4 linked regions of the Homo sapiens genome follow. The gene in region 2 interacts genetically with the main gene of each other region. Each region holds a gene or a part of one and is shown on either strand. Other genes may lie near its edges.

Region 1 (5,957 bases), on a different chromosome or scaffold from region 2:
AGTGAGTCAAGATTGCACCACTGCACTCCAGCCTGGGCGACAGAGCAAGACCCCATCTCAAAAAAAATAATAATAAAAATAAAATTCTTCTTGAAGATGACAAGTTTTCACTCTGCAGGGGTCTCTCAGCAGCTTTACTATCGCTCAATATTTCTACGTGTTCCTTAGATCTCCTTAGCTATCTAATTTCAATAGGCAACTATATTCCTTTTAAAAGCGGACAGTAACAAGCCTGATTTTCGAAAAAACTCTATGCAGAGCTGAAGAAAGTTTGTATAAAACTCTTATGTCAGTCAATCAGCTAAAGTAAGCTAGGCAATGTGATGAGGGCAGGACATCTTAAGCACATGAAGAAGTCACTTAAAGACAAATCTATTTTAAAGAAATAGCTTATGAACATGCATACATTAAAGAAAAGTTACCTCAAAGATGCCTACAAAAAATGTTATATGACACAACCAAATATCTGTTACCAGGTTAAGTGAAAAATGCATTAAATATAGTCTGATCACACAGTTGTAAAAACATAGACAGAAATTTGCATAGAATAGGCAGTAGAACTAAGCATTTTTCTCAACCAACACATGCACTACTTTGAGTCCCTATTTGATAAAAGAAAAATCTTTAAATAATGTTTATCAATAGAACTTTTTCTGCTACAAATAAATCTTACCATTTTATATTTCTTTTTCATTGTTTCCTTTATGTGGAATTTTCATTCAAAACATCATATTCTGCCAAGGACATCTGTCAAATTTGCTTGCCCAGGCACATACCCTTCTTCTGGTACTAGCACATCCATTTTCTTTAAGGAAATTATCCCTGACTGGTTCTTATTTCAAGAAGGTCATACAGAGTTAACAACCTCACAGTTGCAGAGCAAATTGCCCAGGCTAGTTAATGAAGGTATTCTACATCCCAAGCTAGAGTGATTGGTTTGGGGTGAGCATGCAGAGTATGCCTACCTGAGAAAGAAGTCAACAGAGAAGAAAGCAGAGCTGAGAGATGGAGAGAAAGCAAGTCATGAAGATATCACTTGAGCTCCTGGATCCAACCACGCTTGACAGCCTGCTCTATGAATGGACTTTCAATGACATGAGCATTTCCTTTTTCTTCTTCAGTTTAAGCTGGATTTCTGATTCTTGCAGATTCCTGAATAATACACTTACCTTCATACTGCTTTTTCACTGTGTTTCCTATATCTGCAAACTTCCGGTCTTCAAATATCAAGAACTCATGGCATTTTGCCAGAGTTATCAACTCCTTCATCACATCCAGAGTAAAATCATTCAAAATATCTACATGAGTCTTCAGCATGCAGATACTAGGTCCTAAAGCATCTGCTAGCTGCAACAGCTCTCTGGCCAGTGAAACATCAGCAGATAGACACAGATTGGTCTCCTTCTTTTGCATAAGCCTGAGAAGCTTCGATGCAACTGGGTGGATCCTGGGCAGCTCTGCACGTGCACCGAAGCTGAGTTCTTTGGGTGCTTCCTTTATAGAAAGGGGAGAACCATTATGATTCGCTGCCACAAAGACATTCTCCTGAATAAACCTCTTCACTCTCCCAACTGTCTCAGCATCAACTTTTTTCTGCTGCTCGAGAATCTCCAGCATTTTGGACAATGTACACACTGAGTGGAGGCGGATCCCGTGCGCCTGCAACTTGTCCTTGCCTCCCTGCTCTCTGTCCAACAGCACTATGGCATCAGTGACCTTCAAGCCCTCCTTCTGAAGAACCTCAACAGTTTCCAAAACACTAGATCCACTGGTGACAACATCTTCAATGATTAAACAGGTTTCTCCTGGATTAATAGTTCCTTCTACAAGACGCTTAGTTCCTAGAAAAGAAAAAATTTTGCTGATTCCAAATTTAAATATGTATGTATATGTGCGTATATACGTACACACACTCTGTATACAAAACTTGCCAGTTACACATACAGTATATGTGTATACCAATTCTGTATACCAAACTTGCTAGTTGCACATACAGTATATTTATGTATAAAGCCAACTCTGTATACCAAACTTGCCAGTTACACATACAGTATATTTATAGTAAATCAAGTAAATTATTTCACATTATAAACACTGCTTAATGTGTTTTATGATCAAATTTTCAAATAGAGAGGTTTTTTTTTTACTTTAAAAAAATCTGTTTTATCATAGAGATGAGGTCTCACTATGTTGTCTAGGCTGGTCTTGAACTCCTGAGCTCAAGTGATCCTCCCGCCTCAGCCTCCCAAAATGCTAGGATTATAGGTGTGAGCCACCACGTCCAGCCTAAATACAGAGTTTCTTACAGCAAGATCACCTAGATCAAGGAAAGTTATGAAACAGAATAATCCAGTATCATGAATGAAATAATTCCTTTTTCCATCAAAGTATTTTAAGTTCACTATTCAAGATCAGCCAAATAATTGACTTTTTGAAGACACAAATTCAGAAGGAAAAATATTCAGCAATCATTTAGACCCATTACTACAATCTAAAGAATTATATAATGCAATGTGATTAAATATATACTTCTCTACCCAAATCCCACTAGACTATTTTCAGATAATCTACAAAACGTAAATAACTTGGGCTGTAGACTTTAGACTCATCAAATCCTTTCCGCTTCTTGAACAACTGGTAAGTTTAACTGAATCAGCTTAAGCTAGAACACAAGACTGCAAGTATTTATAGTATATTTAAAAATGCATAATTTCATAGAAACAGTTTTTAAAACATAAAATAATAGAAATAAGAGTTTTCTTATGGGTAGGGATTCATACAGTTTTTTTTTAGCTCAGAAAGTCTCAGCTGGGTGCAGTGGCTCACACCTGTAATCCCAGCACTTTGGGAGGATGAGGCAGGAGGATGGCTTGAGACCAGGAGTTCAAGACCAGCCTGGGCAACAGAGTGAGACCTTGTCTCAAAAAAACAAAAAACAAAAACAGAAAAACTAACACTGCCCTTACGCCACAAAAACTCAACTAATATGTTTCTTTTTTTTAATCATAAAAATTTTCAGAATGCATCTGTAGAAGAAGGATTTGTTTTAAAAAAAGTAACAAAACACTAATAAACCAACATAAACAAAAAAGCCCATTAATTCCTTACTATCATTAAGATTGCTTTTCAGGTTTTATTTATTTATTTTTTGACAGTCTTGCTCTGTCACCCAGGGTGCAGTGCAGTGGCATAATCATAGCTCACTGCAACCTTCAGCTCCTGGGCTCAAGGCATCCTCCTGCCTCAGCCTCCCATGTAACTGTGACACTCAGCTAATTTTGTATTCTTTTTTTATTTTTGTAGAGACAAACGTTGCCAAAGCTGGTCTCAAACTCCTGGGCTCAAGCTATCCTCCCACCTTGCCCTCCCAAAGTGCTGGGATTACAAGTGTGAGCCACTGTGCCTGGCCAATTTTCAGGGTTTTTTTTGTTTGAAATAGGGTCTCACTTTGTCGCCCAGGCTGGAGTGCAGTGGCGCAATCTCAGCTCATTGCAACCTCCACCTCCTGGGTTCAAGCGCATCTCCTGCCTCAGCCTCTCCAGTAGCTGGGACTACAGGTGCATACCACCACGCCCAGCTAATTTTTGTATTTTTAGTAGAGACGGAGTTTTACCACGTTGGTCAGGCTGGTCTTGAACTCCTGACCTCAAGTGATCCGCCTACCTCGGCCTCCAAAAGTGCTGGGATTACAGGCGTGAGCCATGGTGCCTGGACAAATTTTCGGGTTTTAAAGCAAGTCACCTGATAATCTATTGCCATGAACCCACAAAAATATCTCTCTGAGGTGTTTACACTGCTTTATGAGAGTAATTTTATCCATGGATTACTTTTCATGAAGTTTAAATACAAACATACTGGGAAAGTATGTGCTGTTACAACATTTTGCTGATGAGGGAAGGGCTGGTAAAAAAAAAAAATGTTGGAGTTTCATAGATACAGTACCAAAAAAAGCACTTTTCATTTCCTAATCAATACAAAGCATTTCACCCCAAGTCTAAAAAAAGGAAGGTGACTTATAGTAACAATTATAAATTCTACAAGCAGTAACAACTTAAAGAACTCAAGATGACTGGTAAAACATTAGTGCACAGAAGCGGAAAAATTCTAAGAGTATGATGTTACAGATTAATTAACTTCATGCTTTATGTTACTTTTATTTTACCATAATCCTTTGTTTCTTTCCTTCTAATAAGCATTGGAATTTGATTGGTTGAACAGATAACTGTAGCCAATGGCAAAGCTGTATAAGGCACTCCACACACGGTGTCAAAACTGATGCCTGCATTTTGGGCAGTTTGGAATAAAATATCTGCAACCTGTAAGAAAATGAACACATAAACAATGTTTTATTGTAACTATTTTATTTTATTTTATATTTTTTATTTTTTGAGATGGAGTCTCGCCCTGTTGCCCAGGCTGGAATGCAGTGGTGCGATCTCGGCTCACTGCAACCTCTGCCTCCCAGGTTCAAGTGATTCTCCTGCCCCAGCCTCCCAAGGAGCTGAGATTACAGGCGCGCACCACTACACCCAGCTAATTTTTTTGTATTTTTAGTAGAGATGGGGTTTCACTATGTTGGTCAGGCTGGCCTCAAACTCTTGGCCTTGTGATCCACCTGCCTCGGCCTCCCAAAGTGCTGGGATTACAGGCGTGAGCCACTGCGCCCAGCCTATTGTAACTATTTTAAATAGTGTATAAACATGTAACAACGTAACAGAAAAGACAGTAATAAACTAGTGGGGGTAAGTCTCAAACTTGATTGGAGAAAAAAAAACAAATGCCTTTTTATTACCCTCTCCATAAACCCAGTACACAAATATAAATCTAAAAACACAAGAATGAATCTATTCAACCAGACTCAGAATCTGTTCTGAAGGCAACCTGAGATGTGCTGGGGAAGCTCATGATGTTGACCCCAAAGACTAAGGACGATCCCGACTTCCTGGTTTCCTCAGTAACCCATTAGGCTGAGTATCTAAACCTATCATCTTTTAGTTATATATCCTGAAAGAAGCCTTCAATTAGGAAGTTTCATAAATACAGACTATTGTGTGAATTGCTATTTTATAATCTCCTTTTCCACATAAATCATCATATTTTAATGTTAGGATACATATTCCCACCCAAGACCACCTCATTTTTTTTTTAAAAAAGCAAACAGTCACTGAGTTGCTTTGTGAACTAGATCATAGGTTTACACCAGTACTTCTAAAGAGTAAAAAAACAAACAAAAAAAAACTATGACTATTTTAAGTTGCAGAGAATGTAATTTCTAGTACTAAAAATATTAACATATTATCTTAGAACTGTTTTATCACTCTTTTTAAGGAATAAACTTGGAATACAAATGCTAGTGACTGGATATCCACCATCTCCATTTAAAAAAACAAAACGTGAAATTGCTGGACTATGAAAAGTTTAAAATTTTTTACATCTTTTTCCAACTCATATTTTCACTCCACTGTGTCCACAGAATTTTATTCTAAAGTAATATATGATTATACTTGAAAAGCTTTTACTGATCCCTCTGTCATACTTGTCTATATGTATGTAAACTGAAATTTAAAATGGTAATTAAAAAAAAATTTCCCATGACCATAAGTCTCTAGATGTCAAGAATTCTTCTGTAGCTCTCTCAGGTCCTTACTTCCAAGATGACAAAGAAAAGAAAGGAACAATGATCGTGCCAAAAAGGGCTGTGGCCAGTAGTGGCACATACTATGTCCGATGCATGCCCAAGGAAAAGACCATTAAGAAGCTCGTCGTGCAAAACATAGTAGAGGCCGCAGCAGTCAGGGACATTACTGCAGTGAGCAACTTTGCCTCCTATGTTCTTCCCAAGCTGTATGCGAAGCTACATTAAGGTGTGAGTTGTGCCATTCACAGCAAGGCAGTCAGTAATCCATCTTGTGAATCCCACAAGGACCAAATACCCCAATCTGATTTAAACCTGTGGG
Region 2 (7,731 bases):
CCTGGAGGTATGCAGGGAGAAGGAGAACGAGAATCAAGCTGCCAGAACTGAAACCTCCTCATTCTACCCCAGGATCTCCATCCTCCACCACATCCAACAGCCAACTGTCTTGAATAACCGGGATGTTGGGGGATGCCCTGGGCGGCTGTGGTGATTCCATTACCACTCTGGGAAGTTCCTCTCAAGAGCTGTGCTCATGCCCATCTGCTGTGGCTGCAATCCTAGAGCAGGGGCACCCATTTTTCTCCAGGCATGGGAGGCTCTGTCCAGAGAGGTGACTGGGGCTGAGGGGTAGGAGCCGCCCGTGTGGTCCTGGTGGCCTTGTTGGGTCTGGCAGCATTAGTTATTCTACCCATGCCATTCTTTTATGGTGATATCATCCAGGAGACACCCTGAATATTCCCAGACAATACTACACTCCATCTCAAAGCGCTAGACAGTGACATTTCTTACCCTCATAGGCACCGTCCCCTCCCTTGCCCCATGCACAGCCCCAGGGTCAGGACAGGGTCCACACTGTTGCATCCAGGGCAACCCTCGGCACTGTTCGCTTTCACCATTTTTCAGGGACACACAAATTTCTAGCTTTAGGTTTTACAGAAGCAGGCTTGGCAAATGCTCCTAACTTTCCACCACCAGGGAGTTATAGTGCCGTCTCCTGGGAGTTTAAGTTATTGGCTGGATGCAGATGTTTGAACGGGAGAGTCTCGCTTTGAGTCCTACCTGCCACATCCAGGTCTACGCGGTAGTGCACCAAGTGAGTGTGTATGTTGCCAATCAGGTGGGTGTGCAGGCGAGTGCCGTGGCGCAGCCCCTCGGGGGTGTAGAAGGTGGCGTGGACGTAGCCAGTGGCATGCATCTTGGCCTCCATCACCCCGTTGGGGTAGAAGATAAAGTCCCAAATGTAATCATAATTGTAGACAGTTGAAGTTGTCCGCAGCACCAGCACCTGGCCCTTCAGCCCCGCATAGAAGTTGAAGCCACCTTTAAAGTTGGAATTAAAGTGCCGCCGAAGGGGCACCCCTGTGGGCATTTCAAAGAGGCAGAGGGCTCGGGGATAATGGACCGGGTCATCGGCATCATAGTAGTGGAAAGTGTCCAGGAAGGTGGCGGTCTCCGGGCAGTCGATGCCGGGGGCTAACTCATGAGTGACGCTGCCCAGGCCCCAGCCGACATCGAGGTACTTGGTCTGCATGCCTGCAGGTGTGTGTCCTCCATACAGCGCCACTGCCTCTTGCACGCTGACCTCATAGGCAATGCGCTCTCCGCCGAAGTGCACGTTCAGGACCTGCAGCCCGGAGGAGGAGCGCAGCCGGAAGGCAAAGCTCCAGCCGCCGTAGAGCACAGCGTTGCCCTCCAGCCTGAAGCGAGGGCCGTGGGGCTGGACCAAGCGGGGGCCGCTCACATGGATGGGGCTGGGGAAGTCCCCGCGGGGCTTGTGGGAGGAGAAGAGGGGCGGCTCCTCTGTGCTGTCATGCCCCTTGCCCCCAGGCAGCGGGTCCTCCAGGACCACCACGTCCACCTCTCCATCTGCATACTTCCGAGCCAGTTCCTCTGGGCTCCCATAGAACTTCCCGTTGTACCACACCTGCTCCACGGCCCAGTGCCCAGCATCTGTGCTCCCATGATCCACGAGGAGCTCCAGCCCAGTGGGGTGCAGAAAGTAGCCTTCTACATAGCGCTGTATGATAAGCCAACTGCGGCGCTGGCCAGAAGCCACACCCCGGGGGGCCACATCGGTGAAGGCCAGGCATCTGTCATGGCAGTCTTGGAATGAGAAGCCTGTGGTATTGAGGAAGAACTGATGCAGGGGCTTGGTGGCTTCCTGCAGGGTGTGGTAGAGGAGGGCATACTCTGCTGTGGAGATGGGCCTCGATGCCCAGGAGGACTGGTACCCAGGCCTGGGGGACAGTGCTCGCATGTAGCAGGGCCCTGGCAGGGGCCCCACAGCAAACTCGGTGACATTGGGATGCTCCTGGTCACCAAAGAAGATGACGGCACGGGCTTCCCGCACAGGATGCCTTTCACCTTTATCCAGAAACCTCAGCACATGGTACTTCTTGGGCAGCAGCATCTCGATGAGAAACACGGTGTTCTTGGCCATGGTGGTGGTACTGGAGGGCTGCAGCCTCAGCTCCTTCTTGGACCAGAGGAAGCTGTGCACTGCCTTCAGCTCTTGGTTGCTTAGGTCTGAAAACACCCCTGCCTTCCTGGGCAGAGTCCCCGGGGAGGGCTCCGCCATGGCCGTCTGCAGCATCAGGATGGCAGCCACGGCCCAGCCCAGGGCCGGCATCTCTCGCTCCACGGCTCTGGAATGCAATAGAGGAGATGAACTTAGTTGTCTTATGGGCAGAGATGGGCTTCCCTCAGGTTAGGGCCATGGAATTTTCCCATGGACTGAGCTTCCTCCCCTTGCCCTGCCCCAAGCTGGAGGCTGTCCTGGGGCAGCTGGGGCCCCATGCATAGTCCCCAGCGCCGTCGGGCCGCTGCCTGTGCATCCATCCATTTATTTCTGCCCTCTCCTCACTCCTCTGTAAATGTCCTTCAGTCCTGCAGCCTTCCTTACTCAGGGGAACACCCTTGTTTTTGTGTATTATCTCAGCCAGGGGTGCCGTGAGTCACAGAGGCCAGGCTGGGCCCCTGCACATGCCCCCAGGTGCTTCTTGTGTCCTGGAGAAGAAGACACCTGTATTAACAGCAAAACTACATTTCTGACACAACGAAATACCTTTTAGGTAGACAGATTTTGAAATTTAGTGTAGAAATTCAAAGGTAGGCTCTAGAGTCAGGCTGTCTGAGTCAAGTCCCAGTGACTCATGCCACTAGGACTTGCTGTGTGGCCTTGGGCACGCTGCTTAAACTCTCTGGGCCTTCATGTTCTTAGTTTTAAAATGAAAATAATGACAACAGTGCTTAGCTCCTAGGGTTGTGGAGAGAAATCAATTAAACAGTAAATATAAAGTGTTTGTAACAATGTCTGCCATATGGGAAATACATGAGAAATGTTAGCTGCTCTTCTTGTTAAATACAGGCTATCGACACCAGCCCATTTAAAGTTTTACGCAATGTAGAGTGATTCAGGTGTGACTAGGCTGCAGACTGATGGCTTTGGGGGTGAGGTAGAGGTGCCCAGTCCTGCCTAGCCTTCTTTGTGCCCCATTCACCTCTCTTGTCCACCCAAGGCTACTAGGAGGGGACCTCAGGGAGGGTTTCATCTTAGGAAGATGCCTTTTCCTTTCTCAGGGAGGGTGGGTCAGGGTCTTCACCTCATAACCCCATTCCCCAAGCAGCTGTAAAATCCTGTGCTTGTAGCTGTGAGCCTCCTGCAGGGCTGGGAGACGTGGTGGCCACAGCTCTGTCTTCCCATGTGCTGTGTGCGGAGTCTCTGGGAGACTGTTACTCTTGCCTGTTGCGCTGTTGCTACAGATGCTGGCTGGAGCTGTCTCCCAGCCTTAGTTTCTCCAGACCCTAACTTGTCCTCCTAGGTGATGTGGGCCTCCCTGGAAGGCTGCCGTCACCGTGAAATTTCCCTACAGAAGCACTGCCTTTGCCACCTTGCACCCCCTTCCTCAAGGCTCTGGGTTGAGCTGGGAGCCCCGCTTCAGGATTCCTCCCTGTCTCAGCTGTGCTTTTCACTTCCTGCAAGCAGTGCCTGAGGCACAGACACTTGATTTATAAGGTGGATGCATGAGTGGGTTGGACTCTGAGAGATCCTTGTTTTCATATTTTCATAGGTAGTTGCCTTTTGCTCCCTAAATCAGAAGCCCTGGGGGTAAACCTGGAGAAAACTCGTTCTCCTGTGCAGACAGACAGGTAGCAGAGAGGGTTAATCCACTCCTGTCTCAGACCTCTGCCTGGCCCAGCCTCTTCCCAGGGGGCCCAGGCTGCCTGCAAGGGAGGCCCCGAGGATTTCACCTGGAAAGTCGGCGGCACAGGGTGTGAGGTGTAACTGAGGTGCAGCAGCTCCACTTTGGGTGTATCGTGGAGTGACCCACTGAGGAAACCTGACCATCATGAGCGCTTTTCATTTCTTGCTTTTGTTTTTGGAAAATGCATTTACACATCACATTTCCGAAGCACAAGCGTTGGGAACACAACCCATGTGTTAACTAGAGGCCCTGTTTTCCCGTGGCTTTTTTCCTCCAGAGAAGCTCAGCTGCACATTGTCCCTTCCCACCCGACTCTGGGCCAGTGTCACATCCTTTGCCACCTTTTGAGGTCAGCTGAAACCCCGCACTGCCGAGGAATGCTGTTTTTGGCCCCAACTAACATACTTCTCCACTAGTCCCCTTAGCACTTTGTATTTAATTTGTACACGATGGGCAGTTCTTGATTCATAGACAAATGAAAGGTGTTGGCTGGGCCTGTTCCATCACCCGAGGGCTCTCTAGCCCTGGAGGCCACGGTAAAGGCTGATCTGAGATGTCCTTCTCTCCCTTTCCCATGCCCCTCTCCCCGAGGGCTCTCCCCTTGCCCTCGTTTTGCTCCATGGTCATGGCCTCTCATGGGGATGTCCCTCTAGTTGCCTTGTCTTGCCCTCTGGTGCTGGCAGAAGACCCTGGAACCCACATGATCTTGGGCTCTCGGAGGCCCTGCTTACCTGGAGGGAGCAGGTGAGGCAGGGGCTGCAGGCGGAACCCAGAGCCAGCAGGAAGGATATGAGGTGAGTTCTTGTGTTCTCCTATTAAATATTGGCCAGGCCTCTTTTTTTTCTTCTTTAAATAGACTATTTTTTCTTTTTCCTGAGACAGTCTTGCTCTGTAGCCCAGGCTGGAGTGCAGTGATGCGATCTTGGCTCACTGCTACCTCTGCCTCCCAGGTTCAAGCAATTCTCCTGCCTCAGCCTCTGGAATAGTTGGGATTACAGGTGTGCACCACCATGCCCGGCTAATTTTTTGTTTTTAGTAGAGATGGTGTTTCACCGTGTTGGTCAGGCTGGTCTTGAATTCCTGACCTCAAGTGGTCCACCTGCCTCAGCCTCCCAAAGTGCTGGGATTACAGGCATGAGCCACCAGGCCTGGCCCCAAATAGACTTCTTATTAGACTTAAATAAATAAATAAATAAATATATATATATATATATATATATATATATATATATAGTCAGGATCTCACTATGTTGCCCAGGCTGGTCTTGAACTCCTGGGCTCAAGTGATCCTCCTGCGTTGGCCTCCCAAAGTGCTGGGATTATAGTAGACTTTTTTTTTAATAGACTTTTAAAAATAGACTTTAATAGATTTCTTAATAGACTTTATAAAGTCTGTTAAAAGTCTTTAAAAAGTCTATTAAAAGTCTTTTAACAAACTTTATAAAGTCTATTAAAGTCTTTTAAATAGGAGTCTTTTAAAGAGGAATTTTAGGTTCATAGCAAAATTGAGCGAAAGGTACTGAGAGTTTCTGTATACTCACAGCCCCTACACACGCAGCCTCCCCACTATCAATATCCACACCAGAGCCATACATTTGTGGCTGATGAACCTGCACATCACTCTCACCCAGAGCCCACAGTTTACATCAGGACTCACTCTTGCTGCTGCATATTCTATGGGTTGGACAAACGGACAATGACATGGATCCACCATTAGAATATCACACAGAATAGTTCCACCTCCCCCAAAATCTTCTGTGCTCCACCTCTTCCTCCGAAACCCTAGCAATCACTGCTCTTTTTATTGTCTCCATAGTTTTGCCTTTTCCAGAACGTCCTGTATTTGGAATCTTACAGTCTGCAGCCTTTTCAGATTGGCTTCTTTTGCTTGGCAGTGTGCATTTAGGGTACCTCCATGTCCTTTCACGGCTGGGTCTCCTTTTTTACAACCTCTTATACCCACGTTTCTTTTTGCTTTTCCAGGAAGGAGAAAGATGTGGAAGAGACCTTTGCTTTCCCCAGGACAAACCTCTGTCCCCATGTGCAGTGGCAGTGGGGGTGGTGGCTGGTGAGACCTCCAGGCAGGAACAGGAAGCAAGCCCTCTCCCTGCTCACCCTCCTCTCTGAGCTTTCCCCACTCCACCCTGGCCGGCTGTTGCCTGCCACCAAGCACCCGGGCACCTTCTGTGATGTGCTGGGCTCCCGCCCTCACTTCCTGGCCCTCCTCCCTCTGTGTCCTGTTTCTTCTGCCCCTCACTCTGTGCCCTCCTTCCACTGCTTTTCTGTCCTCCAGGTCAGCCCCTTCTTGACTCTCCCGAATACCCATCAGAACGCACCTGTGTGCTCTGCTCCCAGTTCGCTCTGCTTCCAGCCTTTGCCCTTAAGCTGATCTCTGACTCCTTCTTGAAGTCAATCAGACCCCGCCCTGCAGGGAGGGACAAGGTGAGGCCTGAGCTGGCCTAGGAGGGGCCTATGGCTTGGGAGGTGCCTCTGTGGGCAGCTACAGTGGCGAGAGTGGGTTTGAGGAAGCTGGCTGTGCAGCACACTTGTCCTGAGTCTGTTTCCAGACAAGTGCCGCCTTCCACAAGAATTTGCCTTGGCTTCTCTGTGACGAGCCATGCAATGCCACGATCTGTTAATTTAGGTGGCATATTTTAGAGGCAGAGATAAGGACAAGGGGCCATTTCCTAGCCGGTAGTCTTACCTGAAGCTGACAGATGGACCAGGGCAGGGGCTGATAGAGGCTGGCACCCACAGCAAAACAGAGAATTCAACCGCTCCTAGAACAAGACACCAGAGGCAGAACCGTTTGGGAGGAGCAGCCACTCAAGACGAGTTGCAAACTTTGGCGGCTTTTTAACGATCTTTGAGACCCTGACCAGATTCAGAAAGGAGGAAGGACTTGGCTGGGAGAAAGCTGGCCAGGGTAGCTAAGGCTATGGCACAGAGCGGAGAGGGGAGAGGACACTGGGGCAGGTAGTGCCCATGCAGTGGGCGGACAGTGCTAACGCCCACTTAGTCAGGTTGAGAAGGGCGAACGTGGTGACCGGGGTAACTCCTAGTTGGAAAGGAAAGAATAGAGTCAGGAAAAGTTCGTGGCTCAGGAGTGCCAAGGGGTCATCATCCCCCATTACCAAGGTTTGGTTGCTCAGGGATTGCACACCGCTTTGTGGTTATAGGGGTTTTGTATTTCTCATCATCATCCTTCCTGCTGCCCGCAATGCAAGCCATTTCAGTGTGCACTGGCAGCTAGATGAAGGAAGGTGAACACACTTAGTCAACTTGAAGCTTGCTTGCAATTCCAGAAGGTCTTTGGTGTTTCTGAGGAAGGGGATTTGCCTTCCATGTTAAAATGATGATTGATACAAAGACAATGAATGCTAACGTCTTTCACCCTCAGTGTTCAAGAGGACTGTGAGTTATGTATTCTCAGTTATGGGCTCACCAACTCCGCAGAGAATTGGGGGGATTTGGATTAGAAGAGAGTTTCAGGAACAACCTGATTTTGAGGACTACAATCTGTTTCCATTCCACAAAGGAAACTGCGACAAAGTTAATGGAGTGAGGATGGATCGAGAAAAGAGACTTGCAAAGATTTAAAGGGAAAGGGGCCACATGCACATGATGGAGTTAGACCCTTTCACACACGGAAACGGACTCGAAAGGGACCAAAGACATACATGTAAGAGCTAAAACTGTAAAACTCTTAAAAAGAAAACATAGGAGTAAATCTGCTTGACTTTACATCTAATTCTTGGATGTGACCTCAAAGCACAAATAACCAAAGAAAAAAAAATAGATAAATTGACATCATCAGTATTAAAAGACTTTTATGCTTCAAAGGACACCCACAGGAAAATGA
Region 3 (8,497 bases), on a different chromosome or scaffold from region 2:
AAGAACTGAAATAATACAAAGTTTGTTCTCTGACCAGAATGGAATTAAAATAGAAATGACAAGAGCACTGATCTATCAAAACAGAAGCTGGTCCAAGGGCTGGCACCAAGTACTGGAGGCCTCCTGCTGTGGTAGGCATTAATCCTTTAGTTGCTAGATGATAATCAGTAGGTCCTGGCTATCCTGGGAAAGGAATTGAGGTGGCCAGGGTAACTGGGTAAGTGTTGGAGAGACTAAAAAAGCCTGGGAGAGTGCCTATTTATAAAATGGACTAGAAATATTCTGAAAATTCATATGGCCATACGATTGTGAATCTGTGGAATATCAGCCCTGTTTAGTAGGCCAATTATCTCATTGGACACTTAAATTAGAAAAGAAGAAAGTCTGAAAATGAATGAGCTGAGCAGCAGGCAACTCTATGAGTTAAAAAAGAACAACAGAATAAATCCAAAGAAAGTAGGAGAAACAGAATAATGATGAAAAAATAGTTAAATAGAAAATAAAGATAAAAAAGGATCAAAAAGTCAAAAGTTGATTATTTTAGAATTATAAAAGTGTCAAACTTATAGCAAGATTGATCAAGAGAAAAAAGGTGCAAATAAATAATATTATAATGAAAGAGAAGCTATAACTACAAATGCAACAGAGATAAAAAAGATACAAAGATAAGAACTTTACACAAAATAAATTTGAAAACTATGTGAAGTAGAAAAATTCATAGAAAACCATAACTTAGGAAAGCTTAAGAAAGCTAACTTTAGTGGAAATAGCAAACTGAAAGGACTCTATAACTGATAAAAGAGATTGTATCAGTTAAAATGTTAAAGGAGACACCAGGTCCAGATATTTTACCTGGAAATGCTGCCAGGTAAAATATTTGAGGAATGGCTAGTTCTGCAGACAACCTCTGTCAGAGGACAGAATGAAAGGAAATAGTTCCCACCTGATTTTATGAGGTTAGTGTAATCTTGACACTCTTGGAAAAATCACAGGCCAATCTCTTTCCTGAGCAAAATGCTAAAATCCTAAACAAAAAATTAGTGAAAGAAATTCAGAAGTTTTTATTTATCCCAGGACTGCAAGATTATTTCAACACAAGAAAAACTCTAATGTATTGTACCACATTAATGGGTTAAAATAGAAAATTAATGTCATTTCAGTGAATACAGAAAACATGTTTAATAAAATTCAATATTCATTCATCTTTTAAAAATTGTATTGGCAAACTCAGAATAAACAGGAACGTCTTTAACCTATTAAATGATATCTACCAAAAAAACTACAGCAAATTTGCTCAATGGTGAAACTTAAAATCGGGATCAGCATAAGAATATACATTATTAACATTTCTTTTCAACGTGTACTGCACATCTCGTGTGTGTATATTAAAGGCGGGAGGTCTTAGCAGTGTAATAATATAAGAAAGATAAAAATGAGGGTTGTGGGGAAAATGAAAGCTGTCATTTACATACAAATTATCAAAACTCATAAGAAAGTTTAGCAGGTTTGCTAGTTACAAATTCATTACATGAAAAACAAATACAGTTGTATACATTAGCAACATACTGCTATAAAATTTAATTTTCTAAAAAGGTACTGTTTAAGATAGCAACAAAAAATAAGCCAAAAAAATCTTACAATGGCATGCAAACCTTTTATAGATTAAATTATAAAACTTCACTCAACATGAAAAAGTCTGAATATATGGAGTGATATACCGTGTTTAGGGAAGACTCAATGTCACAAAGATGGCAACTCTCCTCAAATTGACTGATTTACAGATTGAATGTAATTTCCATCAAAATCCCAAAAGTTCTCTCTCTCTCTCTCCCTCTCTCTCTCTCTGTGTGTGTGTGTGTGTGTGTGTGTGTGTGTGTTTGTATATGTGTGTAACTTGGAAAGCTGATTCCAAAATTTATGGAGAAGGGCATTGGACCAAGAATAGCCAAGACACTCCATAAGAAGGACAAGATGAAGGGACTTGCTCTACCAGGATAAAGGTACAAGAATGCCCATTGGATTATTCTTCATAATCAAAAATTAGAAACTAACCAAATGCTCAACAATAGTAAGATGGATAAACTGTGGGATATTCACAAGGGGAATAAACAAACTACAACTGCTTGCAACGATAAAATGGGTGGTTCGCATAAACATAATGTTGGATGAGAAAAGAATATGCACAGCTGTTCAAGTACTTTACATGTTAATGTATTTAATCTTCAAAATAACATTAAGTAACTGTGTGTCTGCTAGAGAGGATGCTCCAAGAAAAAGGTGATTCAGACCTTACAGGGACCAATAGACTGGCCTCCCTAGCAAGAAGTGAACCAGACATTGTCCAGACTTGGCAACCACTATCTAAGTTTTTTGCATCTATGGTCTGATAAAATTTAGTCAAATATTAATGAGTGACTGTCTTGTACACACAGAGCCCCATTCTTGGCTATGGTGAGTGGTAGAGTGGAAGTAGCACAGAGTGACCATTTACTGAGCATCTACTATGAGCCAGGATCAGGGCCTGATGTTGAGGATATGATGGTAAATAAGACCACACACCCGCTTTCTTGTTTATATAACAAGAACAATAATAATTAGGATAATTAACAATTACTGCGTATGTACTATGTGCTGGACACTCTTCTAAGCACATCCCATGCTCCAGTTCATTTAATCTTCACAACTACACTGTTATTAACTTCCTTTTACAAGTGAGGAAACAGAAGCCAAGAGAGGTTAAGAGAGTTGTCCAAGGTCACAGACACAGGGGGAGATAGAGCTGGAACTCAAACCTAGGCAGTCTGGATCCAGAACCTCTGAATCAGTGAATTACTCCCAATAACACTGGGTTGCAGGCATTAATCCTGTTTTATAGCTGAGGAAAGTGACACTCCAAACAAAAGTAAGCACATATTTATTTTTCACCTTCTATTTGATAGAGACTATATTAGGTGATTTATGTATATTATCTCTCCAACTTGAAAGACACAGTTCCCAGGACTATAAGCATTCTAGCTCTGGAGGACCCGTGTATGCAGAGAATGGCTTGCTTGTTTGTCAACTAAACAGCCCCTTGGAAAAGGCCAAGAGTGGCTGGCTGGGCGAGGGTACCTCTCAGTCTCCAGGCTCCTAGATCTCCAGATGAGTGAGTGAGAGAGCTGGTGGAGATAAGAAAGAGAGAGAATAGGAGCCTAGTCTTTTTTCTCTCTCTTCCTCCACCCACACCCTACCTCCTGTATATTATAACTATATTTAACATCCTATATGCTCCTAGATCCTCTAAGCAACTACTGCTACCCCCAATATCCCTAAGCCTGGGCCTCCTCTAGCATTAGCAGACTGGAAACTTGGTTAGCTGGCCTTTGGGGTGTCTGAGTCCCACAGTCCACAGCTGCCTTATCTTAACCCACCTTATGGCCACTCAGGCCACAATCCCTGGGCTGGATGCACCTTGGTCCACCACTGTCGCCTGTTATCTATGGGAAATGGTACACTCCAGATTTTGTTTTAAATATGTACAGGTTTTGTTTTGCCCTTGATCTTTCTTAAATTTCCAAAGTGAGCACCACACCAGTGGGCTGGCCCTGAGAGACTGCCTCTCTCAAATTTCCAGAGCAGCAAGGAAGTCCATATGTGCCAGGAAGGCAACACTGGAGACAGGACATTAAGTGTTTCCCAACCTAGGCAGGTATAGACTCAGAAAAGGCCTGAGAAAGGAGAGGAGCAATACTGACCAGTGACATGGCACTGTTGTGTACCCAGCACCTGTCCCCTGAAAGATGATGCCAGGAGCCATCACCTTATTTCACCCAGGCACTATCAGTCAGGCAAGACCAACTCCCAGACACTTCACAGAAGTCACCAAAATGAAACATACTAGGCTATCACTGAACAGTCCTAAACTAGAAATCTTAAATTCCAAACAAGAAGCATTCCAAACAAGCTCTGCATAAGAAAGGAAAAGTTCCTAAAGATCCCTCTGATTAAGATGGTCTTAACCTAATCCTCCTTTGTCTTCATCTCTCTTTCCGCCTGTCTTCTCTCTCATTCTTTTCCTCACGTTTTTGACACTAGCCTCTATTTCATCCAGTTGTTCATCTATTCCAACTTTTAGGTTGAGGTAGGAGTGGATGGCAAGGGGAGGTGCATCCTTTGCTCTTCTACACCCACTCTACCACCACCACCTTTAAACCCACGGAAGCAAACCCCACTTACAGCCCCTTCTCCGTTGCAGCCTGCTGCTGCCGCTGCTGTGTGGAATCCAGATCTTCTGCAACCTGGTTTGGGTGAGCTCTCCCATCTCTGGAGACATCTTAGGAGTCGCACCGAATGACATCACTGCCCACAAGGTACCTGGCCTCACTTCCTATCTTACTAGCTGTCTTTTCTCTCGCTGTGGCCACAGCAGCAGGTGGACAGGGCTGGGACAGGGGGTGTACTGGGTTTCTGAGCCCTCTCAAAGTCTGTCTTCAGTCCCCTCTCTTCTTTCCTCTGGTCCTAGCCTGCCTCTGCTCCTGTATGTACTAGTGGGGTATTGGGTGCAGAGGGCGAGAGGTTGGGCAGAGGTCAGGAGAGGCCTCTGAACTCCAAGGGCTGTGTACATAGGAGGTAAGTTGGAGCCCAACAAGGAAGGCAGCCAGCAACACAGCCCAGGTCTGACCAGTCACTTCCCTCCAATGAAGACAAGACTAATAGAGTATGCAAATAAAAGACCAAAGATCATGTGCTTACAGCCTGTGTGGGGTATAGAGGCAAAGGTGATGGAGGTAGGTCTCAGCGGCTTTCCCAGCTTTGAAATAAAAAAATGGGCCCAAGTAGAATGTCAAGCTCCAACCCAGAAACCAAGATTCACATCAGAAATGCAAGGTTCCCAAGGACAAAAACACAAACACAAAGTCCCTACTGGGGAATGCAGTGTTTTGAGCTGGCAATTAGAGGCCCAAACTGGACATGGAAGGTCCACTACTTCTCTGCTTCCCCGACCCAAAATGGCATTGCATCCCTTGTCTTCTCTGGATTCTGCTGCCTTCCTTGCCACAGGGCCTCTCCCACCTGAAATGTGCTGCCTGGAGCACTCTTGAAGAGATGGGCACTATCCGATCATCTTTCTACTCTCTCCAGCCAAGGGCTAAATAAATAGGAGTAAACTGACACCTTTGGAAGAGTGCAGCCATTGCCTGGGGCTGGAGGTGGGGGAATGGTAAGCTCTGCCCACATGGCTGTTAGCCACCATCAGATGCCCTAAGGAGAATGACACTGGCATCATGAACTGATAGAAAATTTCACTAAAGTTCCTCATGCCAAGCTATTAGGATGGAGATTTAGGAGGGTGGAGGCTGCAGCAGGGAACAGAGAGCAATGGCCTCAAAGTAGGACAAGTCCATAGGCCAGAGTCATCCAGCCCAGATGACTCACTCTCACCTGCCCTCTCCCGCTCCCCTGACCCGTTGTTTTGAGGCTTTTATGTGTATAACTCATAGAACTGCACAGCTTGCCTCGAAGATGCACAAGTGTCCTCTTACTTCACTCTTTTGCAACCTTCCCACCCCCAATGAACCTCCAACGATTGGCTATGAAGAAGCTCAACTTTCTTCCACTGAGCTGGGCTACACAAGGGCAATCTCTTGGGGACAGAAATTTCCAATCCCTGCCCTCAAATGCTCTCAGTTCCACTTTGCCTTTTAAGAAGTTCCCTAAAATACATTTGCAAGCCGTAGTCTACACAAGGGTCAGATTCCCTCCAGTTGTTGTGTATAAATCATACCAAATTTTTAATACATTCCAGAGCCCACCTATCTAAATGAATCAACTGAGATAGCAGATCATGATGGTTAAGAGCAATAGGCTCTGGAGCAATATTTCTTGAGTGGAATCCTACCTCTGCCCCTTGTTGGCTATGAGGCAATGAGCAGAAGACTAAACTTTTCAGTGCTTCAGTTTTCTTATCTGGAACATGGGAATGATAGGAGTACCTACCCTCCTTAGGACTGTTGAAGATTCAATGTGTTAAAAAATGTAAAGCAATCTGTGAAATGTTAAAAATATATTATCTAACACTGTTACTCCCTTTGGGAGGTAAATGATCAGACACCTCCTTGACTAATCTGAAACTTCTAATATAATGCTGACCATACAGAAAACTCTCAGTTAAGGAAACTTACAATATTATGGGAAAGGGTTAACATTTATAATACACAAAGAGCTCCTGCAAATCAATTAGAAGGATGAATTTGGTTTTACTCTTTTGATTTTGTGTAAAGACTTGCAAGATCATTTCATCTCACCCTCTCAGGTAAGAAAACTGAGGTCTAGAAATATTTTCCTAAGGTCATGTAGTAAATCAGTGGCCAAGTCAGGAATAGAACACTAGGGACCTAATTTCTCCCAGGCCAGGGCTTTTCTTTAATTAATCAAACAAGCCTGATCTAAGAATGTGGTCTTACAGGTTAGCTCAGAACCTCTAGAGTCTCAGAACTAGACTTTGTAAGAGATACAACTCTTTTAATTCTAATAAATTTCCTAACTGGTATAAATCTGTTAATATTAATAATCTTAATTATAACCCTTTCCCTGTATGTTTTCCATTGCCCACAAAGCAACAACATATTCCTTATCTTATTTGATCCTTGCAAACATCCTTGTTAGCCTTACAGGGAAACTGAGGTCTGGGGAGGGGAAGTGGCATGTTCAAGGTAATCTAGCTGGTCACATGAACATCTCTTTTATGTTTACAATTTTGTCCTCATGGCCCTGCCAACAGGCAGAAGGATAATTTTAGCAGCAGGAAATCTGAGATAAGAAGCTGGCAGGCTTTTGACAAAGTCTTAAAGGGTAAACCTGGGGTCCAGGCTTGAAAGCCTAACTTAAAATTGCCTGGAATTAGCTATGAGATTCCTCACTACTGTTACCAATTCTGATCCCAGAAGCAGGAGACCAAAACAAGCTTTATGGAAAGACCTCAGCTTGGCACTCAAGACTTTTCAATCAAGCTTCAGCCTATCTGTCCAGCCATATCTCTCCTTAGATCATCCTTAAACTGCACTGGCTGACTCACTGGGCCCCAAAATACATGGTGTATTTTCCTGTTTTTTGGCCTTTGCTCAGCCTGAAATGCCATTTTCCTCCTTCTATTCCCAACAAAATCTGATCCACTTTTCAAGGTCTGGTTTGATGTTCACTTCCTCTGGGAAGTGACCCCTGTATCCTTGGGACAGGCCTTGTATTTGGTTCTTATATTGCCCACATGCTCCTATCTGAGCAAGTATCCACCAGTATTTTCCTGGTCTGCTTCCCCACTAGACTGTGAACTCCTTGAGTATGGAGACTAGATCTCAGTGATCTGTAATTTGTGTTTCCAGTGTCCAACTCAGGCCCTGGCACAGAGGACAGAGAAGACACTTGCTTATTGTGTTTGTGCAGTCTACATCTCTCTGCCCTAGATGAGATGAACTTGTGGACAACTAATCCTAGTTCAACAAGGTAAATATTATAACAGAGAGCTGTGCAGGGAATTGGATGGGAGAACTAATTTGTCTGAGGTAGGAGGTGGCATCCAGAAAGGTTTCTCTACCTTGAATGGGACAGAAACAGATAAAAGAATGAAGTCCTCTCTGAAAAGGGCCAATGAACTCGTGGCAGAGAAAGGGTTCAGTCAGTACCAGATTCTCATTCAAGATCAAGCTCTGACCTGCAGCTCTTGGTCTAAAATTCTAAAATGGGGCTATCTCTAGGGAAGAAAAGATTACAATGTGATTTCCCAAGGCCCCCAGATCCTGACCCCATACCCCTCCCAAAGTATAGGGCATGTGTATCGGGGGAGAATACCATGTAAAGCAGCATATGACAGTGCTGATGGATAATAAAGTCACGAATGGGGTCTCCCTATTGGTAGCTCTCAGACTGTTTGGGTATGAATGCATTTGTGGAGAGTGAAGGTGTGAGGGGAGATCGACCACACACTTACAAGCTAGGTGCATGTATATGAGTGTCAGGCCTTCTGTGACAGCAGCCTAGGATCCCCTTCCTTCTCACCCACTGTCCTGGCCCACCATCTCTCCACTATTTTCGGCCTCATGCCTGGGCCCCAAACCTCACTGAATCCTAGTCATGGAAGTGGCTCTCCACAGACTATAGTCGCACAGCAGCTGGAGGGTTTTGGGTGGGATTGCTTGTGGAGCCTATAGAAAAAGCAAGATGACTACTCTTAGAGCGAGGAAGTCCTGAAATGTCTCCAAAGAGCTTTGGTTTCTGCCTTTCCACTCTTCTTGATCGTGACAGCCCTCTGAGGAACGTTGGCTAGAGACTTTGATTTCCATTTTACTGAGGAAGCTACTGATGCCCAGAGAAGCAAGAGAGCTTGTTCAAAGCGCCACAGCAAATCAACCCTACTTTACACATCAGTGGGGAGGTAAGAGCTATAATCTCAATCACTCAGTTCATTCAAAACCAGACTTGACCAAGTTAGAGAGACTTTCACAGGTGCTAGTGAATTGCCCTG
Region 4 (7,987 bases), on a different chromosome or scaffold from region 2:
GGATGGAGAAAGGGCGCTTCAGCGTCTTGGGCTGTTTGCTGGAGAGACGGTCTGCGGGCTCTGCCCCTACGGCCTCAGGCCTGCTTCCTCGGGCTTCCCTTTGATTCCCTGAGCAAGGCAATATCCTTCTAATCAGTCCTGCCTTTGTTCAAGTGAGCCAGAGCCTGTTGATGTTACTGTGACTGGGGTCCTGACATCCCTTTCCTCTTAAATATGCGCGGTTTCCAAATCCTCTCCAGTGAATGCAGGCTACCTCCAGGGGAACACACTGGCGGTGGGCACAGGCTCTTGACAGGCAGACCCGGAGCAGGCCTCACTGGCTGGCCAAGCGTCAGACCTGGTAAATGAGCTGCCTCATCCCTCTGAGCCTCAGTTTCTTCATCTGTCAAATCAGAAGAGTTTTCTTGTTTCACAGGCAGCTGTTGTAAACCTCAAAAGTGAGAATAAAGGGACATTGCCTGGCGTATCAAAGGTGTCAAATGAATGGCAAGCACTGTACTCGCCGGTGTTTAATAACTCTCTGTTGGACAAATGAATCTACTCATTTAACAACAAACGCTGAGTCCTCCCAGTGTGCCACCCTGCGCTGGGTGCTGGGCTTGACAGTGGGCAGGAGGGTGAGAGCCCAGCCTGCACAGGTCCCAGCCCAGTCAGGAGATGGACCAAGAACAAGCCACAGACGAAAACACAAACCCATTTCAAGTGGTGGGAAGTGTCATCCAAAAAACAAGATGGAGAAAGAATACACTTCAATATGATGGTCACGAAATGTGGGGAGACTTCTGGGCCGAGGCCTCGTGGACAAGAAGGCACCAGACCTAGGGGTGGGAGGAGAACATTCCAAGCCAAAAGCTGCTGGAGAAGCACACAGAGAGGGGGGCACAGTGGGTGGAGAGGCAGGCAGGCCCTGCAGGTCATGCTCAGGAGGGTGTATGTGGTTTTTAAAGGGAAACTATTCAGAGGTTTCAAGTCAGGAGCTGCCATGATCTGCTCTGTGAGGGCCTTGTCAGCCTGCATGGAACTGAAAGGAGCAGGCAGTTTAGGAGGCCCTGTCAGCTGTACTGGCAGTAAATGCCAAGATGCTGGCAATGAGAAGAGACAGAAGCAGACAGGTGCCAGGCACGTTTTCGAAATCGGTCCCATGGGACATGGGACTCACCAACAGGCTGGAAGTGAGGGCTTAGAGGAAGACATCAGCACGGCCCCTGATTTCCGACCTGAGGCCACCAGACAGCACTGCCATGCACAAGGAAACCAGCACCCCAGGGACAGATACATCGGGTCTGAGTGTCTGGAGCTCAGAGGGCAGTCCCGGGCCGAGGCAACGCAGGTGGGACAGCTGGCACAAAGACAGTATCTAAATCCCCAGGAACGGATGAATGAGGCCATGTCGTTCATCTCACTCCCACAACTGCTGGTCAACCACCATGGCCACCCAGTGAAACTCCAGCTGAAATAGTGACTCCAGTCCCGCAATCCTTAAACTTGAGGGTGTATGAGAATCACCTGGCGGGCTCGTCAGACCCACATTGCTACTCCCAGAGTGTCTGATTCAGAAGGTGTAGGGTGGGGCTGAAAAATGTCCACTCCTAAGGAGTCTCCAAGGGATGCTGACTCTGGTCTCAGGACTCACTTTGGGATCACTGCTCGACCTGAAACAGTGGGCCTGGCCCACACTCTGAATCCACATTTACTGGCTGCAGGTAAGATACTCCTCTCTCCTAAGTATAAGTGAACTCGTGCTCCTAGCGTGTTAAAAGGGGGTCAGCGAAGGCCGGCCATGGTGGTGCGTGGTGCGCAGCTGTGTTCCCAGCTACTCAAGAGGCTGAGGTGGGAGGATCACTTGAGCCCAGGAGTTCGAGGCTGCAGTGAGCTGGGATGGCACCTGTGAGTGGCCACTGCACTCCAGCCTGGGTGACAGAACAAGACCCACTCTCTAAAATCATGAGGGATGTCAGGGTAACTAGGGAACAAGGTGTCATGAGGACATGATGAAACAGTGGGCACCAAGCACCCACATAATGCCAGAGCAACTGTTCAGCAAGTGTGATTCCCACTGAGCACACAGAGGGCACGCTATGTTGGCTGAATGTGTGAATTTCTTTTTTTTTTTTTAAATTAAGTTTTTTTGTGGGGGGACAGTCTCGCTCTGTCACCCAGGCTGGAGTGCAGTGGCACGATCTTGGCTCACTGCAACCTCCACCTCCCAGGTTCAAGCAATTCTCATGCCTCAGCCTCCCAAGTAGCTGGGACTACAGGCATGAACCACTACACCCAGCTGATTTTCGTATTTTTAATAGAGATGGGGTTTCACCATGATGGCCAGGCTGGTCTTGAACTCCCAGCCTCAGGTGACCCACCTGCATCGGCCTCCCAGAGTTCTGGGATTACAGGCGTGAGCCACCGCGCCTGACCATGAATTTCATTTAAATATGGAATCCAGGCCAGGCACGGTGGCTCACGCCTATAATCCCAGCACGTTGGGAGGCCGAGGCAGGCACATCACCTGAGCTCAGGAGTTCGAGACCAGCCTGGCCAACATGGCAAAACCCCGTCTCTACTAAAAATACAAAAAAAATTACCTGGATGTGGTGGTAGGCACTTGTAATCCCAGCTACTCAGGAGGCTGAGACAGGAGAATTGCTTGAACCCAGTGATCTTGGCAGTGAGCCAGGATCGTGCCATTGCACTCCAGCCTGTGCAACAACAAGAGCAAAACTCTGTCTCAAAAAAAATGGGAATCCAGAGCGGAAAGGTCATGTGAAGAACATGAAAGAACTCATGCCTGAAGGTTTGACGCCCCCAGAGCAGGAGGGGCTCTGGACTGAAGATCTTGCCTTCCTCAGCTCGGGAAGAGCTGCTCCAACGTCCCCAGGGAGGGCCGGCCCTGACCCCTCCGGCATGAGTGCTCTCCTCCAGGGCCACAGACCTTTCCTCTGGGTTTGGCAACTGCAAGTTCCCAATTTCCAGAAAGGTCTCAATTTCATGCAACTCTAATTCTTTTCAATAAAGATAATAAAGTGAGTATACAGCAAAATGAACTTTACCCACCTCACCTTTTTAAGACTTTTCATGTTAATGCATCCACGTGCCTTCAGGCCCTCCCCAGGCATGGTTCTCACCCTTCAAAGGCCTACTCTGGGCCAGGCTAACCTGACACAGTGACAGGCACCCTTCCTGGAGAACCTGCATCATAAGAGGCCCCATCTAGAGCCTCAGGCTGGAGAGGTCCTTGGGGAGCAGAAAGCCGCTGTCACAGAGGTGGGGGAGTGCTGTGAGGGTCCATCCCCTTTCCACAGGCAGGCTGAGCCCCGTACCCCTCACCTGTGATGCATGGGGTAAGGGCTCAGCTGAGCAGACGCACGCCTTACCTTCTCATAGGGACAGTACTTGAACATCTTGATGGGGCTTGTGCAGATGAAGACGTCAGTGCTGTCAACAAGAGAAAGGAGGTTGAGCCTGCAGCCCCATGACTTCACCACCCCGAGGCCTTCACCACCTGCCCTGCCTTCACAGGGCTGGACCCTCTGAGTCTGAACCCTTCCCCTGCTGTGGGAGACCCACTCCCCTGTACTATATCCACACCAGAGGTGTCGGCCTATCCCATGGCCCTGGGCAGCCACATGACCCTACCCAGCCACAGGCAGCCAGCTCTGGGCTGGACATCTGACTGGAGGGCCTCCTGCAATGCAGAGTGGTAAGTCAAGAAATCTATGAGGAAGAAGGATTCTGGCATGCAAGTCCCCTGGCCTGGAGAACACAGAGAAGGAGCCTACTCCATGCCAGGCTAAGCCCTGCAGTGATCGAGTCCCTGAAACACAGGCTTGGCCTTGGCTTGGCTTGGCTCCGCGTGAGGAGCGCCACATCCCCAAGGTCGTAGCTCCGCGGGAGAGCTGACCCAAATGGCCTCCCAGGTGCCTGCGCCCTCATGCCCACAGGGCCCCAGCCCTCACTAATGGAGCCACCTGGTCCCAAACACCCTCATGAGGCTGGCGTTCGCTACTGGAGCCTGTGCCTCCTGCACGTCTTGCTGAGCCTCTGGAAGATGGCACTTTGCTGACGCTTTCTCTCTGGCAAACGCGTCCCTCAACAGGCAGAGGTGAGACTCCCGGGTCCCTGGGCACAGGGTGTGCCCTCTCATTACCTGATACTTGGCACTACCTCCACCAACCACGCAATCCCCTCTCCTAAAGACTCAGCCTCTCCCCAGCATCCTCACTCCTGCCCCAACCAAAACTGGCCTCACACGAAGGGAGCACCTCCCCAACTCGCCTCTGAGTGACAGCTGCCTCTTCCTCATCCCCCACAGACTTCAGAGATGGCAGGTGAGGGCAGCGTCTGCCTTCTCCACTGCTCCTTCCAGATCCCTGATGCCAATGCCCACACTCGACAGCACACCCCTAGAGCCCTTCCTACTCACTGTCACCTACCATTGCCAGTTACTGTCCCTTATGCACCTCACTCGCTGGCTCGCCATCCTCTCCATTCCTGCTCTATCACCATCCTCAGTGACTTGACACACACATGTCCACATATATGTGTGTGCATAGGTACAGATCCAACACCTTGTCGCTCAGTTCCTAACCCTCCCCACCTCCAAACAACTTCCTCTCCACCTCCAAACACCCAACCTCCAATACCTCTCCTAGTGTCACCCCCGGAGCTTGGAATCACTTCCCCCCAAAACCTCGTCTCAGGCTTTGCCTCCCTGGCCACCACCCACGACGCTTCAGCAAATGCATTATCTCATTCTGTACTCAACTCTTCAGCCTCGTGGAGACACCCTCCTTGTCCCAGCTTAGCGGCCTGCCTTCATCCAGCTGGGGCCCAGCCTTCGCTGCCATCCTCTGCTTGTGCTTCTCATCCTCCACCCAGGCCTGTCTGGCCAGGCCCTGAAGGAGCCCAGCTATCCCACTGCTCCCACCTGCACCCAAGCAACTAAATGTTGCCGGAGAAGAAAATTCACATCATCAGTTGGACTTGTTTCACCTTCAATTCCTGACACCAAGCCAGGGCCTGCAGCTGCCTGGCAGCTCTCTTCAATGCCCTCTCTGGTGCTCTGGGCACAGCCAGGACACACCCGCCCCATTTCCTCAACCTTCTTGTGGGTGAGACTCCAAGCCCACCTCATCATGGATCTGGAGACTCACCTGCCGCCGGGCTCACTTCTTCCTCCCTTCCTGCTGCACAGGAGGAAGCCACACCACTCCCTTCTCCTGGGCTCCACCTGTGCCCTGGATCCTCCCCCTCTGCCCTTCACAGACACTATGCCCTGCAATACCCGCTTGCTATCCTTCTCCACAATCCTTATTCAAACGTGTGCTGGAACCTCCCAAATGCCCACTTGCTATCCTCCTCCATGAACCTCATTCAAACGCATGCTGGCACCTCCCGAATGCCCGCTTGCTATCCTTCTCCATGACTCCTCATTCAAACACGTGCTGGCACCTCCCGAATGCCCGCTTGCTATCCTCCTCCATGACTCCTCATTCAAACGTGTGCTGGCACCTCCCGCCTTAGATATATACACACACAGCCTTGACCCCCACATTCCAGCTGCTCCCTTCGAAGCAGAATGTCCCCGACAAGCTGCCTCCACCTACCGACCCCACTCCCTCGCCTCCTGCTCCTGCTTCAATCCACTCTAGACTGGGCCTGCCCCTTCACTCCACAGAAATTGCTCCTTGTCACCAAAGACCCTAGTGTCCCTCTGTCCAATGCCCATCTCACCATCCTCACCCACAGGTACTCAGCCCAGCTGGCCACGCCAGCTCTCCTGGGCTCCCCTATCCTGGGTCCTAGCCTGCGCTCCTGGCCTCCTGATCCTCGCCAGCCACCCAGCCCAGACTCCCCGTCTACTCCTCTCCTGACCGCTCCAGGTTGGGTCTAGGCCCTCGGGGGCTCTCAGCCTGCACTCCTGCTTTAAACACCATGTGCATGCTGATGCGTCCCAACCTCTCCCAGCACCAAGTTTCCACCCACCTGGACGCCTCACACACCTCACACAGGATTTCCAACGTGGGAAACGTGATCCCCTACTCCTAAAGCGTGTCTCTCCCCGAGTCTTCCCTCAGTTCCTAGTCTATTTTAGATAAACAGAGATGATAAAGACAGAGCTCTGCTCAAGCAAAACACCTAAAAATCACCTATTTTTCCTACCTTTATTCCACCCCCAATATCAGATCCATCCCCAGGTCTTATGGGTCCCGCCAAAGCACACGTCATCCACCCACCTCTCTCCACAGACCTCACCCTAGTCAAACTGAGTCGTCTCCCACTGAGCGGCTGCAACCACCTCCACTGACTCTTCAACTTCCAGTTCTCACCCCTCCAAGCCATTTCCACCCAGCATCCAGACCCACTCTTTTTAAACAGCTTTACAGAGGTATAAATAATATAATAATCAACATGCAATAAACTGCACATATTAAAAGGGTACAATTCAATAAATTTGAACATAAAGACATACGTGGGAGGCTGGGCGTGGTGGCTCACGCCTGTAATCCCAGCACTTTCAGTGGCCAAGGCAAGCAGATCACCTGAGGTCAGGAGTTCAAGACCAGCCTGGTCAACATGGTGAAACCCTGTCTATACTAAAAATAGAAAAATAGCCGGACGTGGTGATGAGCACCTGTAGTCCCAGCTACTCGGGAGGCTGAGGCAGAAGAATCACTTGAATCCAAAAGGCGGAGGTTGCAGTGAGCCGAGATCACACCACTGCACTCCAGCCTGACGACAGAGCGAGACTCCGTCTCAAAATAAAGAAAGAAAGAAATATTTAAAAAAAGTAAAAGACACACATGGGAAACCCAGATCACCACAATCAAGAAATAAACACGCCTGCCACCCTCAAAGGTTCTCCTTTGTTATCTCTCCCAGCTGTCCCTCCCGTCCCTCCCTGCCCCTGGGGCCCTAGGCAACCACCCATCTACTTTCCATCAGTACAGATTGGATAGTATTTTCTAGAATGTTACATAAAAGAAAGTATAGTCTATACTCTGTTTTGCCTGGCTTCTTTCATCCAGCAAAACTATTCTGATATTCGCCCATAGTGTTAAATAAATGTATCAACAGTGTGTCCTAATTGTTAAATAAATGTATCAATAGTTTGTCCTAAATTTTTAAATGTTTGAGTAAACATTTCTTAAAAGTTTTACTGAGATAGAATTCATATATCCTAATATTCACCTATTTTAAGTGTATAATTAAATAAATGTTAGTATATTTACAGGGTTTTACAGCCATCACCACAATCGAATTTAAAGACACTTCCATCACCCCAAAAAGAAGCCCCATTCCCATTAAGCAGTCATTCCCACAGCCCCTCCCCACAGCCCGGGGAACCAGGGGCTGCCTAGCTCTAAGGATTTGCCTCTTGTTCAGAAACTTTTTTTTTTTTTTTTCTAAGACGAGGTCTCACTCTTGCCCAGGCTGGAGTGCAGTAGCTCAATCTCAGCTCACTGCAACCTCTGCCTCACAGGTTCAAGCAATTCTTCTACCTCAGCCTCCCCGCAAGCAGCTGGGATTACAGGCACCCACCAACACGCTCAGCTAATTTTTGTATTTTTAGTAGAGGTGGGGTTTCACCATGTTGCCCAGGCTGGTCTCGAACTCCTGACCTCTGGTGATCCACGTGCCTCGGCCTCCCAAAGCACTGGGATTACAGGGGTGAGCCACCACGCCCGCCCCATAATATTTCACATAAATAGAATCCTACAATACGTGGCCTTCTGTGTCTGGCTTCTTTCACTCAGTATCATGTTTTCAAGGTTCATTCATGTTGCCACATGAATGGGTAGGTCATTCCTTTTTTTTTTTTTTTTTTTTTTTTGAGACGGAGTTCTGCTCTTGTTGCCCAGGCTGGAGTGCAATGGCGTGATCTCGGCTCACTGCAACCTCCGCTCCCCAGGTTCAAGGGATTCTCCTGCCTCAGCCTTCCGAGGAGCTGGGATTACAGGTATGTGCCACCACGTCCAGCTAATTTTGT

Evidence for each region.
Region 1: changes in AOC1 (region 2) and UMPS together harm fitness more than expected from each alone (negative genetic interaction), as found in Homo sapiens cells (one large-scale study listed by BioGRID).
Region 3: changes in AOC1 (region 2) and PFKFB1 together harm fitness more than expected from each alone (negative genetic interaction), as found in Homo sapiens cells (one large-scale study listed by BioGRID).
Region 4: changes in AOC1 (region 2) and NT5M together harm fitness less than expected from each alone (positive genetic interaction), as found in Homo sapiens cells (one large-scale study listed by BioGRID).

The regions. Positions count from the first base shown.
Region 1 is NC_000003.12:124,733,452-124,739,408, reverse strand, and holds part of UMPS (uridine 5'-monophosphate synthase), read right to left. Parts: intron 4,317-5,957; coding exon 4,163-4,316; intron 1,842-4,162; coding exon 1,170-1,841; exon of another isoform or gene 966-1,169; intron 1-965. UniProt on the Homo sapiens protein: Bifunctional enzyme catalyzing the last two steps of de novo pyrimidine biosynthesis, orotate phosphoribosyltransferase (OPRT), which converts orotate to orotidine-5'-monophosphate (OMP), and orotidine-5'-monophosphate decarboxylase (ODC), the terminal enzymatic reaction that decarboxylates OMP to uridine monophosphate (UMP).
Region 2 is NC_000007.14:150,851,033-150,858,763, reverse strand, and holds the start of AOC1 (diamine oxidase [copper-containing] isoform 2 precursor), read right to left. Parts: upstream 6,248-7,731; 5' UTR 6,206-6,247; intron 4,661-6,205; exon of another isoform or gene 4,601-4,660; intron 2,310-4,600; 5' UTR 2,294-2,309; coding exon 724-2,293; intron 2-723; coding exon 1-1. UniProt on the Homo sapiens protein: Catalyzes the oxidative deamination of primary amines to the corresponding aldehydes with the concomitant production of hydrogen peroxide and ammonia.
Region 3 is NC_000023.11:54,989,696-54,998,192, forward strand, and holds the start of PFKFB1 (6-phosphofructo-2-kinase/fructose-2,6-bisphosphatase 1), read right to left. Parts: upstream 4,494-8,497; 5' UTR 4,337-4,493; coding exon of another isoform or gene 4,313-4,336; coding exon 4,216-4,312; intron 1,026-4,215; exon of another isoform or gene 944-1,025; intron 1-943. UniProt on the Homo sapiens protein: Synthesis and degradation of fructose 2,6-bisphosphate.
Region 4 is NC_000017.11:17,318,630-17,326,616, reverse strand, and holds part of NT5M (5'(3')-deoxyribonucleotidase, mitochondrial isoform 4 precursor), read right to left. Parts: intron 3,433-7,987; coding exon 3,372-3,432; intron 431-3,371; coding exon of another isoform or gene 410-430; exon of another isoform or gene 1-409. UniProt on the Homo sapiens protein: Dephosphorylates specifically the 5' and 2'(3')-phosphates of uracil and thymine deoxyribonucleotides, and so protects mitochondrial DNA replication from excess dTTP. Has only marginal activity towards dIMP and dGMP.